3 separate regions of the Homo sapiens genome follow, and regions 1 and 3 are each linked to region 2. The links come from fine-mapping of genetic effects on gene expression. A gene starts in region 2. Each other region holds a variant in brackets. All regions are shown on one strand. Distances are from middle to middle. Region 1 overlaps SLC22A14 (solute carrier family 22 member 14). Region 2 holds the start of OXSR1 (oxidative stress responsive kinase 1). Region 3 overlaps DLEC1 (DLEC1 cilia and flagella associated protein).

Region 1 (4,193 bases), 140 kb before region 2:
AGCTGGGCCTGGAGAGAGTGACCAGAGGCATAGGCCAAGATGTGTGTGTGGGGTAGGGGGTAGCTGAGCAAAGGCAGGAATCAGTGCAGACCCTTTCCCAAAGGCAGGTGCTAGGCCCAACCTGCAGATTCATGCTAGGGCGGTCTGTGTTGTAAAGGGCCTAGATTGCAGCTCGGGTTGGGAAGCCCCGTAAGAGATGCCTGATCAAAGCTGCTTCTTTCCCCGAGCCCTATTTTTTGTGAGTTCTGAGGTCAGAACCACAACTACAGGAGCGATTTCTTGGACAGATGGAAAACCCTGCCATGCAGCACCCATCTCTACCCCAAATGTACTCTATAGATAGGCAGGGCCAGGGCTGGGCAACAGGAATCTAATTTTCTGCCCAGACCCTGCCTCTGCAGGTTGACCTCAGGCCAATGGCTTCCCATCTCTGAGCTTCGGTTTCCCCACCCATTCAGTGAGGGTGGGAGGCACAACTCTGAGCCTGTAGGGTAGTTACAGACAACCCATGACAAGACATACCTCATTGATCAGCGATCGCTTCTTAGCGTCAGGATAGATCCACCCATCTTGGCATGTGTCTGTGTCATTGAGGCCAAACTGGATGATAGAATCCAGATTCCAAGGCACAGGAAGGTACATGAAGCATGTCAGGAAACTGCCATTGGGTGCTTGGGGTATGGTCAGATTCAGCTGCTCAGCTTTGGACAGGTGGGGGCCCACTGCCAGGATCCAGCTGGTATTGCAATAGGGCTTCTGGGCTGTGAACACGAAGTGGTCAGCAAACATGAAGAAGGCCGACATGATGCTGGGGATAAAGGTGAGGGCTACTAGCCTCTGCTGGAATGTGCCAAACTCCCCCACCGCATCCAGGAGGTTGGCAAACTTGTCATCCTGCTTGGTGTGGACAGCCCTCAATCTGCGTAACAGCATCTCCAGAGACCAGGAATGTGGATGTCCTGCTACCTCATGCTGGTTCAAGTTCCTGGAAGCATCCTGGGATCTGAGCTCTTCCTTGAAGTTCTCCTCTCCTGCCATCTGTCCAAAGAAAGGGTGCAGCTCAGTCTCTGCTGACACCACTTCCTAAACATCAGAGACCAGCATGGGAGCCACCGACTAGGAACTGGCCTCTGGCTTGAAGCAATATGGATTCCAACCTTGACGTTCTCAGTAGTTCCCTCCCTTGCTTTCTTAGTTAACATGATTTATTCCCCCCTGGCCCAACCATCCTGGAGTTTTAGTGTAATTGAGATTTTTAATGTTTTAGAAAATGCTGTGCTTCTGTTGTCATGAAGGACTAAGTTCTTAGGAACTCTCCTACAACTTCCCCACAACTCAAGCTTTTTGTTTACACACACACTGAGACACCAGTGGTCTTGCAAAAGGTAGGAGAGGTCTCTAGGGACCTTTTCTTCAAAAACAAACAAAGATCTGCATCGTCGGCTGTAGCCAGGAGGTGGGCCCAAGGTGGGAGGCTGGAAGCCTGGGCCACAGAGATGGGGCACCAAGGCTGGTGCAGTGGTGAGGCAGTGCAGCATGGAGCCAAACTGGAAAGGCAGGAGTGGGGAAGGAGGAAGGTGAGCAGTACTGACTGTCAGCATATTACCTTGCAACAGCAGCAAGGAGGGGAAACTAAGCTTAAAACTCTGTTTTGAGCCAAAACTCTCAGAAGGGGTAACAGTTCCTGGTGCGGGGCACCCCTTGGCTCAGAGCAGAGGCAGAAGCGAGCCTTCTCTAAAGGAAAATTTCTTCAAGTTGATTCTGCAAGACTCTCAC[A/G]GAGGTACATCAAGCAAAGAGATTATAGCTTGAGAAGGCAAGCCACTCTACAAGTCGACAGAATCCAGAAACCACAGACTTTTAGACTGCAGATGTTGAAACTGTCAGATACAAAATTTAGAACAGCTATTGTATGAACTTTTTAAGGATTTAAAGGTTGTAATTACGAAAATGAACTTAAAACAACAATCAGGAAAAAGCAGACACTTTTGGAAGGAAGATTATGAACTTTTAAAAATGAAAGCTTGTTGAACGGCAAGTTGTTGTTGTTGAGATAAAAACACTAAGAGGAAAGTTAAACAAATTTGACACAAAGAATCAGTGAACTGGAATAAATTGCTGAAATGTGAGAGAGAGGTAAAGAGACTTGGTAGATAGAAGATTTAACATGTATCAAATTGGAAGCCCACAAGGAGAAATGGAGACGAAATAAAAACAATACGTTTTCTAAAACTTTTAAAACAAATTCTTAGATCCAGGAAATGTAACTTAGGCACGATAAATAAAAAAGAAAACCATGGCTAGACACATTGCAATGAAGCTGCAGGACACCAATGACAAAGAAAAGATCTTGAAAATCAGCTGGAGAGAAGGCAGGCCACTGACTAATGAAGAGCCTCAGCAGTCTCCTGTTAGAAGCAGGTGCAGGCAGGTAGATCACTTGAGCCCAGGGGTTCAAGACCAGCCTAGGCAACATAGTGAAACCCTGTCTTTACAAGAAAATTCAAAAAAATTTAGCCAGGCTTGGTGGCATGTGCCTGTAGTCTCAGCTACTCGGGAGGCTGAGGTGGGAGGATCACCTGAGCCAGGGAGGTCGAGGCTGCAGTGAGCCATGATCACGCCACCGCACTCCAGCCTGGGTAACAGAGCAAGACCCTGTCTCAAAAAAAGAAGATGAAAGTTAAGCAACACGGAAACCAGGAGAGCGAAGAATATTTTCAAAATGTGGATGGAAAATTATAGACCACATAGAATTGTATACCCAGCAAAATTGTCTGTCAAGAACTAGGGTAAAATAAAGGTAATTATAGAGATAACAAGAAATTGAGAGAACACACAGTAAGAGACCTGATTTGATTGAACTTTTTTTTTTTTTTTGAGACAGAGTCTCGCTCTGTCATCCAGGCTGGAGTGCAGTAGTGTGATCTCGGCTCACTGCAAGCTCTGCCTCCCAGGTTCACGCCATTCTCCTGCCTCAGCCTCCCAAGTAGGTGGGACTACAGGTGCCCGCCACCACGCCCGGCTAATTTTTTGTATTTTTTTTAGTAGAGATGGGGTTTCACCGTGTTGGCCAGGATGGTCTTGATCTCCTGACCTCATGATCCGCCCACCTCAGCCTCCCAAAGTGCTAGGATTACAGGCGTGAGCCACCGCGCCCGGCCTGATTGAACTTTTAAAAGATAAGAAGGGTGCTGGCTTCGGTAGCACATATACTAAAATTGGAACGATATAGAGAAGATTAGCATGACCTCTGCACAAGGATGACACACAAATTTGTAAAGTGTTCCATATTTAAATAAATAAATGAAAGATAAGAAGGAAAATGATCTCTGGAGGACAGCTGGAGATGTAATAATGAGTGGTAAAAATGGGAAAAATGTAAGCAAATTCAAATATTGATTGTATTAAATAAATACAATCATTGAGATTGTATTGAATCTATAGTGGAGAAGAATTTATATCTTAACAACAATATTGAGTCTTCTAACCCACGAGGATAGAATGAAGATAGAGATAGAGATGATAGAGATAGAGATAACTCCATATGTTTTTAAGTTAAAAAAAAAACTTGTGAATACAAGTTAAAGAAGAAATCATGGTGGGAGTTTAAAAATATTTACAAATAAGTGACAGTAAGAACCATAACATATCAAAACATATGGGTGGTATAAAAAGTGGTACTTGTGGCAAGTTTATAGCTTTAAGTGCTTTATAACAGAAAATCAGAAAGACTGAAAATTAATCAACTAAACAACCATCATAAGAAGTGGGAAAAAACACAAAAGAATAAATCTAAAGAAAGTAAAGGAAGAACGTAGTAAAGTTAAGACAAAAATTAAGGAACTAGAAACAAAAGTATAAGAAAGGGAATCAACAAAGTTCAAAATTAGTTCCTTGAATAGATTAATAAGATAGACAAATCTTTAGTGAAATTATGTAAAAAATAAAATAAAAAAGAAGATACAAATAAGTCTTTTATATATGCAAAAAGGAATATACAGATATAGCAAGACTGAAAATATTAACTGGATACTAACATCAACTTTATGCCAATGAATTTAAAAACTTAGGTGAATTAAATTTCTAAAACAAAATTACTCAAAACAGATTTAAGAATAAATAGAAAGTCTTAAAAGTTCTATAATGACTAAATTAAAGTAGAAGTAAAAAAATCTTCCCACAAAGGAAGTCCAATT
Region 2 (4,193 bases):
TCTGCCACCTTAACAGCAAAGGCTTTGAGAATGACTACAACCATCCTCTTCACCCTAGAAAGATGGATACACTACCAGAAAAAAAAAAAAAAAACTCTTCTTTTAAAATGATGATAGGGAACCTCCTCTTTACTTCTCTGACATCATTTTGGAATCTTCCATTTAATCCTTTCCTTCAATATGAAACTCTGACTGGGGGAACCAGAAGCAATCAGTCCAGACCGGGAACTAGCTGTCTTTAGAACCAACGAATACATGTCAAAGACCCAATATGTAGCAAGGACACAGGCCCATGAAGTGGCTTAAGCAAAGATGTGATGTCTTTATTTAGTCCGAGTTGTTTTGTTTTGTTTTTGTTTTTCCTATACGAACCAATATTGCTTTAAGCCCAGATTGTCTTAAAACAAGAGGCAAGTAAAAACAAAAATTATTTCACGAAGTTCTTTTTAAACCCACAGTGAAATAAACACTGACACCCCCAAGGCAGCTAGGAAGTCTTCAGTTGGTCTTTGTTATAAAACTAATTTTAGGGCAGGATGCTGGCAAAGCAGATAATTCGCCTTCCTCCAATACACAGGTGTCTGCTCATGTCCGTTGGATTGAGCCTGTATAGCTAAACATTTTGATTTCCAAGGTCACTGGGTTATTGTTGTCCAACAAATACTCCCCTCATCCCCAGTCCCCAGCCTCCTCCCAATCCCTAGGCTTCTGTGAGAATTACAATCTATGTGCAAGTTTTGGTCTCTGCCAACTGGTATTCCTGGACCCCCTTCAAATCTTTTCACACACCAGCCCAATTTATCGGATCACGTCAAGGCACTATTTGAGGGCCTCCAGTGATACTTAAAATTCCAAAATCTGTACCAAAGCTGAGAAGATCCCTAAGATCTGGCTCCTCCCTTCCCTCTCTATCCTTGCCAGCCTTCCTTCAGGTCCTAAAACAAATCAAGCTCTTCCCTTACTCAAGGCCACTGCATCTCTATATCCCTCTGTAAGGAAAAATCTTCCCGAGGCTCTTAATCCTCACTTCTCATGCTTCAGGGCTCAACTGAAATGTTATCGCCTCAGAAAAAGAATTTTCCTTGAAATCACCCTAAGTAGATCTCCAGGTTATTCTCTATCAGAACATCTTGTTTATCTCCTTCATGGCACTTGCCAAAGCCTCTTCAAATTTTTTTTTTTTTTTTTTTTTTTTTGAGTCAGAGTCAGGGTTTGTCGCCCAGGCTGGAGTGCAGTGGCGCGATCTCAGCTCACTGCAAGCTCCGCCTCCCGGGTTCAAGGATTCTTCTGCCTCAGCCTCCCGAGTAGCTGGGATTACAGGCGCGCACCACCACACCCAACTAATTTTTGTATTTTTAGTAGAGACGGGGTTTCACCATATTGGCCAGGCTGGTCTCGAACCCCCGACCTCGTGATCCGCCCGCCTCGGCCTCCCAAAGTGGTGGGATTACAGGCGTGAGCCACCACGCCCAGCCCTTCTTACTTCTTTTTGTCTTCTTATTTAATGTCTACCTCCCCGACTGGAAAGTCAGTTGGAAGGAGTCGTAAGTTGGGTCTCGGTTGCTCAGCGCGGTTCCTGCAGCTTCACCTGGAGGATCCCCAGTTCGCCCCAGCACGGATGGAGGAAAAACTTAAAGCTCCCTATCTATCCCACAATCCCAGAAATCGATGGCTGTGCCCACTTCAAGATCCCATTTCTCACACAGCCTCGGAAAGGCCTGTCCCACACCTGCACTTTCTTTCTCTACAAGACACATGGGCCGCTCCTGTCCACACATTTGAGAATCCTGTACACAAATCTCTCCTGAGCCCCCTCAAGCCTCACCCCACCCCACGCCACCTCACAGGCGCGCGCCTCAAAACCCCCTTCCCGTCTCACACGCGCTCCTCGACACAAGCGTCCTACAAGCCCCCAGCCCCACAAGCGCCCCACGAATTCCTATGAGGGCTGCGCTCCCCGAGCTCCCGCGGCTCCCCACGTTCCCGTGTCCCCCGCCTCCCAGCGCCGCGCCTCCCCCCTCCGCAGCGCCTGCTCTCACCGATCACCTCCTGCAGCTCGTAATCGTCCCTGTTGATGGACCAGGGCAGGGCGCTCGAGTCCTCGGACATGACGGCGGCAGCGGCTCGCGGTCCTCCCTCAAACTCGCTGACCTCGCTCGTCTCCTCGCCGCGCGTCTCCCCACCCCCAACAGCCGCCGCCGCCGCCGCCGCGCCCCCACCAATCGTCTCGGAACAGCCACGGGTCGGACGGCGCCGGGGCGCGGGGTCACCGCGCGGCAGAGCAGCGGGGGCTCAGAGCTCCGGCGGACCTCGCCTCCTGCTCCTCCGAGTCCGGCACTGCCCGGCCCAGCCCACGTCCTGTCCTCGGCCTCCGCAGCAGCAGCGACAGAAGCTTTGCCTGGGCCCAGCCCCTCTGTCCCGCCCTCCACCCCAGCCCCACGCACGGGCCAAACTTTCCCCTCTTCCTCCACCTGCCGACACGCAGCGCGCTGACGTCACTGCGCTGGTCACGCCCCACCTCGGGCCCGCCTCCGGCCGCCATCTCCAGTGTGGCTGGATGTAAAGTGAGCAAGCTAGAAACCCGAGAAGGTAGGAGTTCGCGGTGAAAGGGAAGAAGTGCTTAGGTAGAGGTTCATCGAAGGCATCGAAAAGCCGTAGGAGAGCCTCAAGTAGCACAGAGGCAGTAGCCACACTAAGCATGGCGACCAAAGGGCAGCAAAGTAGAAGGGGCAGAGCCACTTCTAGCGCCTGGGGCACGCTGCTGTCTCCGTCGTCGCATTCATTGGTTTGTTTGAGAAGGAATCAGAAAAGCAATGGGTGTGGGTAGACGTCAGTCATAAATTGGTCCCGCCTCCAGGCTCTTAGCGCGCTTCTCCGTGTTAGGGCTGCAGCCCTTCAAGAGCTCCGTTACCGCGCTCGTCTTACCACTTCCTCTGGAGTGACGTCACGGCGTAACCGTCACACCCTCGAGACGTGCGAAAGGCTCTACAGGGTGTGGAGAAACCCTGAGGGAGCGGCTGGGTGGGGTAGCCTTTGGGTGTGGACCACTGCCAACTAGGATAAAAGGCCTTGGGCCACTGGTCGGAGTGAAACTGGAAGTTTGCCTGGTGACATTTTTTTCAAGGCGGACGTTCTCTCTAACGCTTGTCGCGGCGCTGTCTCTCGCGGGTCCACCCTGCACTGGGCGGGTTCTGTCCATTCGCAGCTTTAGATCTGAAGCTCAAATAAGCACCTGCCTTGAGGGACTCGGGAGGTTGTCTTTCTTCCCCCCGGACAGGGCTTGGGGTATTAAACAAGTGAGATCGACCCACGGATTTGGGGGTTGTCTCACGGGCGTTGGCTTTTGTCGCCCCCACTGAACAGTTTTCTCAGTTTGACTACGTACGGCCGTTAGAGAAATTAGCGAGCTGAAGACTGAACACGCTTGGTAAATTGGATTTTAAAAAATAATGAGCATCCAACAGGGATAGGGCTAGGTGCGAAACTGTTCTAGGTTGGACACCTTTCAGTCCAACGGCAGTCTTTAAGGAAGAGACCTTAGGCCGGGTGCGGTGGCTCACGCCTGTAATCCCAACACTTTGGGAGGCGGAGGCGGGCGGACCACCTGAGGTCAGGAGTTCGAGACCATCCTGACCAACATGGTGAAACTCCCTCTCTACTAAAATACAGAAAAATCGCTGGGCGTGGTGGCTGGCGCCTGTAATCCCAGCTACTAGGGAGGCTGAAGCAGGAGGCGAAGGTTGCAGTGACCCGAGAGCATGCCACTGCACTCCAGTCTGGGCAACAGACGGAGACACCGTCTCAGAAAAAGGAAGAGACCTTCACCTAGGCCCAGCTGAGACGGAGCAGGGACCCCTTTTAGGGCCTGCAGGCCCTCAACCATGGAAATAAAGGAAAATCTTGAGTTACTTCAAGAGAAATTCCCGGCACTTAGCTAGCCTTGAAAAGTTAATGAACCCCTTGATAAGCAAGAGGGCAGTAATAACTTTAAACATTAGCCAAAGAAACTAAAATAACTGGATGTTTGGTTCCCTATAAAAACTAAAGATAACATCAACACATGTCCCTGAGTTGTTTTTTAGAAACCCAGACCCCCACCAAATGGATCTGCTGGCACATAGACCTCAGAGAATGGGGAGCTAAGGACTGAACTCTGACTGGTGGTTTGTTTTTTCTCTAAGTTTCTTCTTCCT
Region 3 (4,193 bases), 110 kb after region 2:
TGAAACCCCGTCTCTACTGAAAATACAAAAATTAGCCAGGTGTGGTGGCGGGCGCCTATAGTCCCAGCTACTCAGGAGGCTGAGGCAGGAGAATGGCGTGAACCCAGGAGGTGGAGTTTGCAGTGAGCCGAGATTGCGCCACTGCACTCCAGCCTGGGCAACAGAGCGAGACTCTGTCTCAAAAAAAAAAAAAAAAAGGAATAATACAGTGAGTATCCAAGTACCCATAAGTCATTGCTAAGACAGTTAACCTCCACCATGTCCCACTCTAGAAAGATCATCTCCAATCCTGTCCCCAGCTGGGGAAATCACTCACTAGAGTACGTATGTATCATCCCCATGCACGTTTATATTTTTGAATAGTTACAGATTCTTAAAAACAAATAAAACTTCTGCATGCCTTAAATATAACATGTCAAATGTCATCACACTGTATGTGTTCCGCCTGAATTTTCTTTCTTTGCGGATTATCTTTATCTTTGTGAGATCCACCTATGTGATCCATGTAGTTCTTTTTTTTTTTGAGACACAGTCTCGCTCTGTCATCCAGGCTGGAGTGCAGTGGCATGATCTCAGCTCACTGCAACTTCTGCTTCCTGGGTTCAAGCGCTTCTCCTACCTCAGCTGCCTGAGTAGCTGGGACTACAGGCTCGTGCCACCACGCCCAGCTAATGTTTTGTATTTTTAGTAGAGACGGGGTTTCACCATGTTGGCCAGGCTGGTCTCAAACTCCTGACCTCAGGTGATCTGCCCGCCTTGGCCTCCCAAAGTACTGGGATTACAGGCGTGAGCCACTGTGCCCAGCTGTGATCCATGTAGTTCAAATAATTGATTCTTACTGCTTTTTAGCATATGATAGACAACAACCTACCTATCCATTCCCCTAATGATGCACCCCTGAGCTGTCTCCAGGTGTTTGCTATTTCAAGCTTCTGAATACATTTTCTTGTCTGTACATACAAGAAGCTCCCAACTGGACTTGCTGCCACCAAGGAGGCCCACAAAAAGGCAGTGGTCTCGCCCACTGGCCTTCATTCCTTTCCCTGACATCATCATCATCATTCTGATGGGTGTGAAAGGACATCCCTCTGGCTCTAATTTGCTGATCACTAAGAATGAGCATTTTTATTTATTTTTCCATTTCTGCAAATTCCCAGTCATGGTTTTTGCTCTTTCCTAAGTGAGCTGTTTGCCACCTTCTTGTTGACTCCTAATTCTTTACATATTTTGGATACTGAATCTGTTCGTTATATTTGCTTTTGTGGATTTTGTTTTCACTTTTTTTTTAAGATGAAAGCTAGTTTATTAACAAAGTAAAGGAATAAAAGAATGGCTACTCCATAGGCAGAGCAGCCTGTTTTTACTTTTTATTTCAAAATAAAGAAGTTTAAAATTTAATGTAGTTGGCCGGGCATGGTGGCTCACGCCTGTAATCCCAGCACTTTGGGAGGCCGAGGTGGGCAGATCACTTGAGGTCAAGAGTTCAAGACCAGCCTGGCCAACATGGTAAAACCCCATCTCTATTAAAAATACAAAAATCAGCCAGGCCTCGTGGCACATGCCTGTAATCCCAGCTACTCAGGAGGCTGAGGCAGGAGAATCACTTGAACCCAGGAGAGAGAGGTTGCAGTGGATCTAGATTGAGCCACTACACTCCAGCCTGGGCAACACAGCAAGACTCTGTCTCAAAAAACAAAAACAAAACCAAAAAACCAAAAACCACTAAATTTAACTACAGTATTGTTTTTTTTTGAGACAGGGTCTCATTCTATCACCCAGGCTGGAGTGTGATGGCACGATCTCAGCTTATTGCAACCTCCACCTCCCTAGCTCAGGTGATCCTCCCATCTCAGCCTCCCAAGTAGCTGGGAGGCGCATGCCACCACACTCAGCTATTTGTGTGTGTGTGTGTGTGTGTGTGTGTGTGTGTGTGTGTGTGTGTGTGTGTGTGTATTTTTTGTAGAGATCAGATTTCACCATTTTGCCCAGGCTGGTCTCAAACTCCTGGGCTCAAGTGATCCACCCAACTCGGTCTCCCGAAGTGCTGGGATTACAGGCTTGAGCCAGCACGATCAGCCTGAATTTCTTAATGTTTTCCTTCACTGGGCATTTAGGACCTTGTTAAAGAAGGCCTTTCATCTCCAGAGCCATGAAGATGCTCTCCCATAGCGTCTTCTAGGCTTTAAAACATTCAGAGCTTATTTGCTGTGTGGTGTTGGTGAGGGCTCTAATTTTTCTCCCCGCAACCCAGATAACCAGGGTCACCCAGTTAACAGAGCTTTAGAGTCCACGTTGCTTTCCGTTGCTCACGTCTTCACTGACTGCTCTGTTCATCTGCCTATCTCAGAATCACACCCTTTCTCCAGGACCACTCTCCTTCTGCTGGAAGTACGTTCTTCAGTGAGTTCCTTGAGT[C/A]TCACTCTCCTGAGTTTCCTGTTGTGATAAATTCTGTTTCCCATCTGGAAATGCCTTTACCATAAGCAGATTCTTGAACAACCATCTATTTCAATGCCTGATTCTAAGCTGATGGTGAAGAGTCCCAAGTCACACTCACTGTATCACATGGCTTCCGGCTCCCACTGTGGCTGCTATAAAGTCTACTCTCAGTCTCAGCATCTGCTCTCTGTAATTTGTGCTTTTTCCTTGGCTGCATTTAAGATCTTCTCTTTGCACTTGGTGTCCTGCAGTTTCATGATGATATGGATGTGGATTTCTGTGCTTCCTGCTTCTGTGTATTCAGGCTTTCATAACTTACAGAAAATTCCTGGCCACTGTCACTTTAAGCCTCATGTCCCCACACTTCTCTGTTTAAATGTGTGCTGTGCCTCATCCTGACCTCCACACTTCTTATGTTTCATGTTTTCTATCTCTTTGGCTCTCTAGTCTGCATTTCTTCTGATTTTCCTTTCCATCTACTAATTCAAAATCTCTAGCCAAAATGGGCCTGTTGTTAAACCCACAGTTTCATCTATTGTACTTGTCATTTCCAGACGTTCTCTTTGATTCCTCTCCAGTCTGCCAGGTCATTTTAGTGGTCTTGTGGCTCCTGGTTCAGGCTGTTTCCTTCCTTTAGTCTGTAAATATCTCAAGCATTCTTAGTTTAATTTAGGATGTCAAAGGCTGGGTTCTCTGAGGTTCAGTTCCGCTGTGGTTCTGCTGACTTACTCGTGGTGGCTTTTCCCATATGTGCTTGGTAATTTTACCTGTGAGCTCATGTTTAGCTGGTTTTAATCTGGGGAAATCCAGAGAGACCTGGGTGTGCTGGGAGCAGCCACCCACCATGCATGTTCTCACTAAGTTTGCAAAGAACACCATTCTTTTAACCTGGGCCACTTCTCAGGGCTGTGCTTACAGCAAGTGGTCTAGAGGAATGAGGTCATGTTTCTTCTAGTCAAAGTGCAGGTTTGTTGACTGTCCACTGAAAAAGCAGTGAGTTCTCCAACCTCAGCATGCATCGGCCATGACATCAGCCCCACTGCTTGCATAGCATCTGCCTGGGCCCCTTGTGTCACCCCCTGGGAAACCTGTGCCAGCAAGAGGCTCATGCTGCTTGCTGTGCTCCAAGGACCCAGGAACCTCATGTCTTCAGTCAACATCTGTGAAACACTGTAGGCTAGCAGATTAGTCTGTAAACAGAGTAGAAGTCAGACCCAGAAAAACGTCAGTGCCTCCAGGCGCCTGCACGCTGCCCTCATGGAGGCAGGAGAGCTCCTCAGTGTGAGCTTTTCCAGATCACGCAGCTGCCACCAACACAAACTTCAAACCCTTGTTTTTGTTTTTGTTTGTTTGTTTGTTTTTTTGTTTTGTTTTTTTTTTTAGTATTTATTGATCATTCTTGGGTGTTTCTCGGAGAGGGGGATTTGGCAGGGTCATAGGACAATAGTGGAGGGAAGGTCAGCAGATAAACAAGTGAACAAGGGTCTCTGGTTTTCCTAGGCAGAGGACCCTGCGGCCTTCCGCAGTGTTTGTGTCCCTGGGTACTTGAGATTAGGGAGTGGTGATGACTCTTAAGGAGCATGCTGCCTTCAAGCATCTGTTTAACAAAGCACATCTTGCACCGCCCTTAATCCATTTAACCCTGAGTGGAAACAGCACATGTTTCAGAGAGCACGGGGTTGGGGGTAAGGTTATAGATTAACACCATCCCAAGGCAGAAGAATTTTTCTTAGTACAGAACAAAATGGAGTCTCCTA

Evidence for each region. PIP is the estimated chance that this variant, and not a neighbour inherited with it, causes the effect.
Region 1: its variant is the best candidate, but not a certain one, in a credible set for the expression of OXSR1 in whole blood (INTERVAL, PIP 0.77).
Region 3: its variant is the best candidate, but not a certain one, in a credible set for the expression of OXSR1 in whole blood (INTERVAL, PIP 0.89).

What each region holds. Positions count from the first base shown.
Region 1 is chr3:38,302,872-38,307,064 of GRCh38, reverse strand. It overlaps SLC22A14 (solute carrier family 22 member 14), which reads right to left. Exons shown (of 11, transcript NM_001320033.2): 2 at 523-1,038. The coding sequence starts at 1,038. It also overlaps the pseudogene RNU6-235P. Among named protein-coding and RNA genes, the nearest start is that of SLC22A14, 23 kb to the right of the region's middle. The variant A/G (reference allele first, on the strand shown) is at 1,777.
Region 2 is chr3:38,163,793-38,167,985 of GRCh38, reverse strand. It overlaps OXSR1 (oxidative stress responsive kinase 1), which reads right to left and starts at 2,449. Exons shown (of 18, transcript NM_005109.3): 1 at 2,040-2,449. The coding sequence starts at 2,109. It overlaps LOC101928234 (a long non-coding RNA gene), which reads left to right and starts at 2,510. Exons shown (of 5, transcript XR_940733.2): 1 at 2,510-2,589. RefSeq lists silencers at 1,955-2,004, 2,055-2,444 and enhancers at 1,676-2,291, 2,685-2,784, 3,055-3,184, 3,335-3,414, 2,575-3,774.
Region 3 is chr3:38,053,822-38,058,014 of GRCh38, reverse strand. The region is part of intron 2 of DLEC1 (DLEC1 cilia and flagella associated protein); the gene reads right to left. Among named protein-coding and RNA genes, the nearest start is that of DLEC1, 17 kb to the right of the region's middle. RefSeq lists enhancers at 2,495-2,544, 2,575-2,654. The variant C/A (reference allele first, on the strand shown) is at 2,416.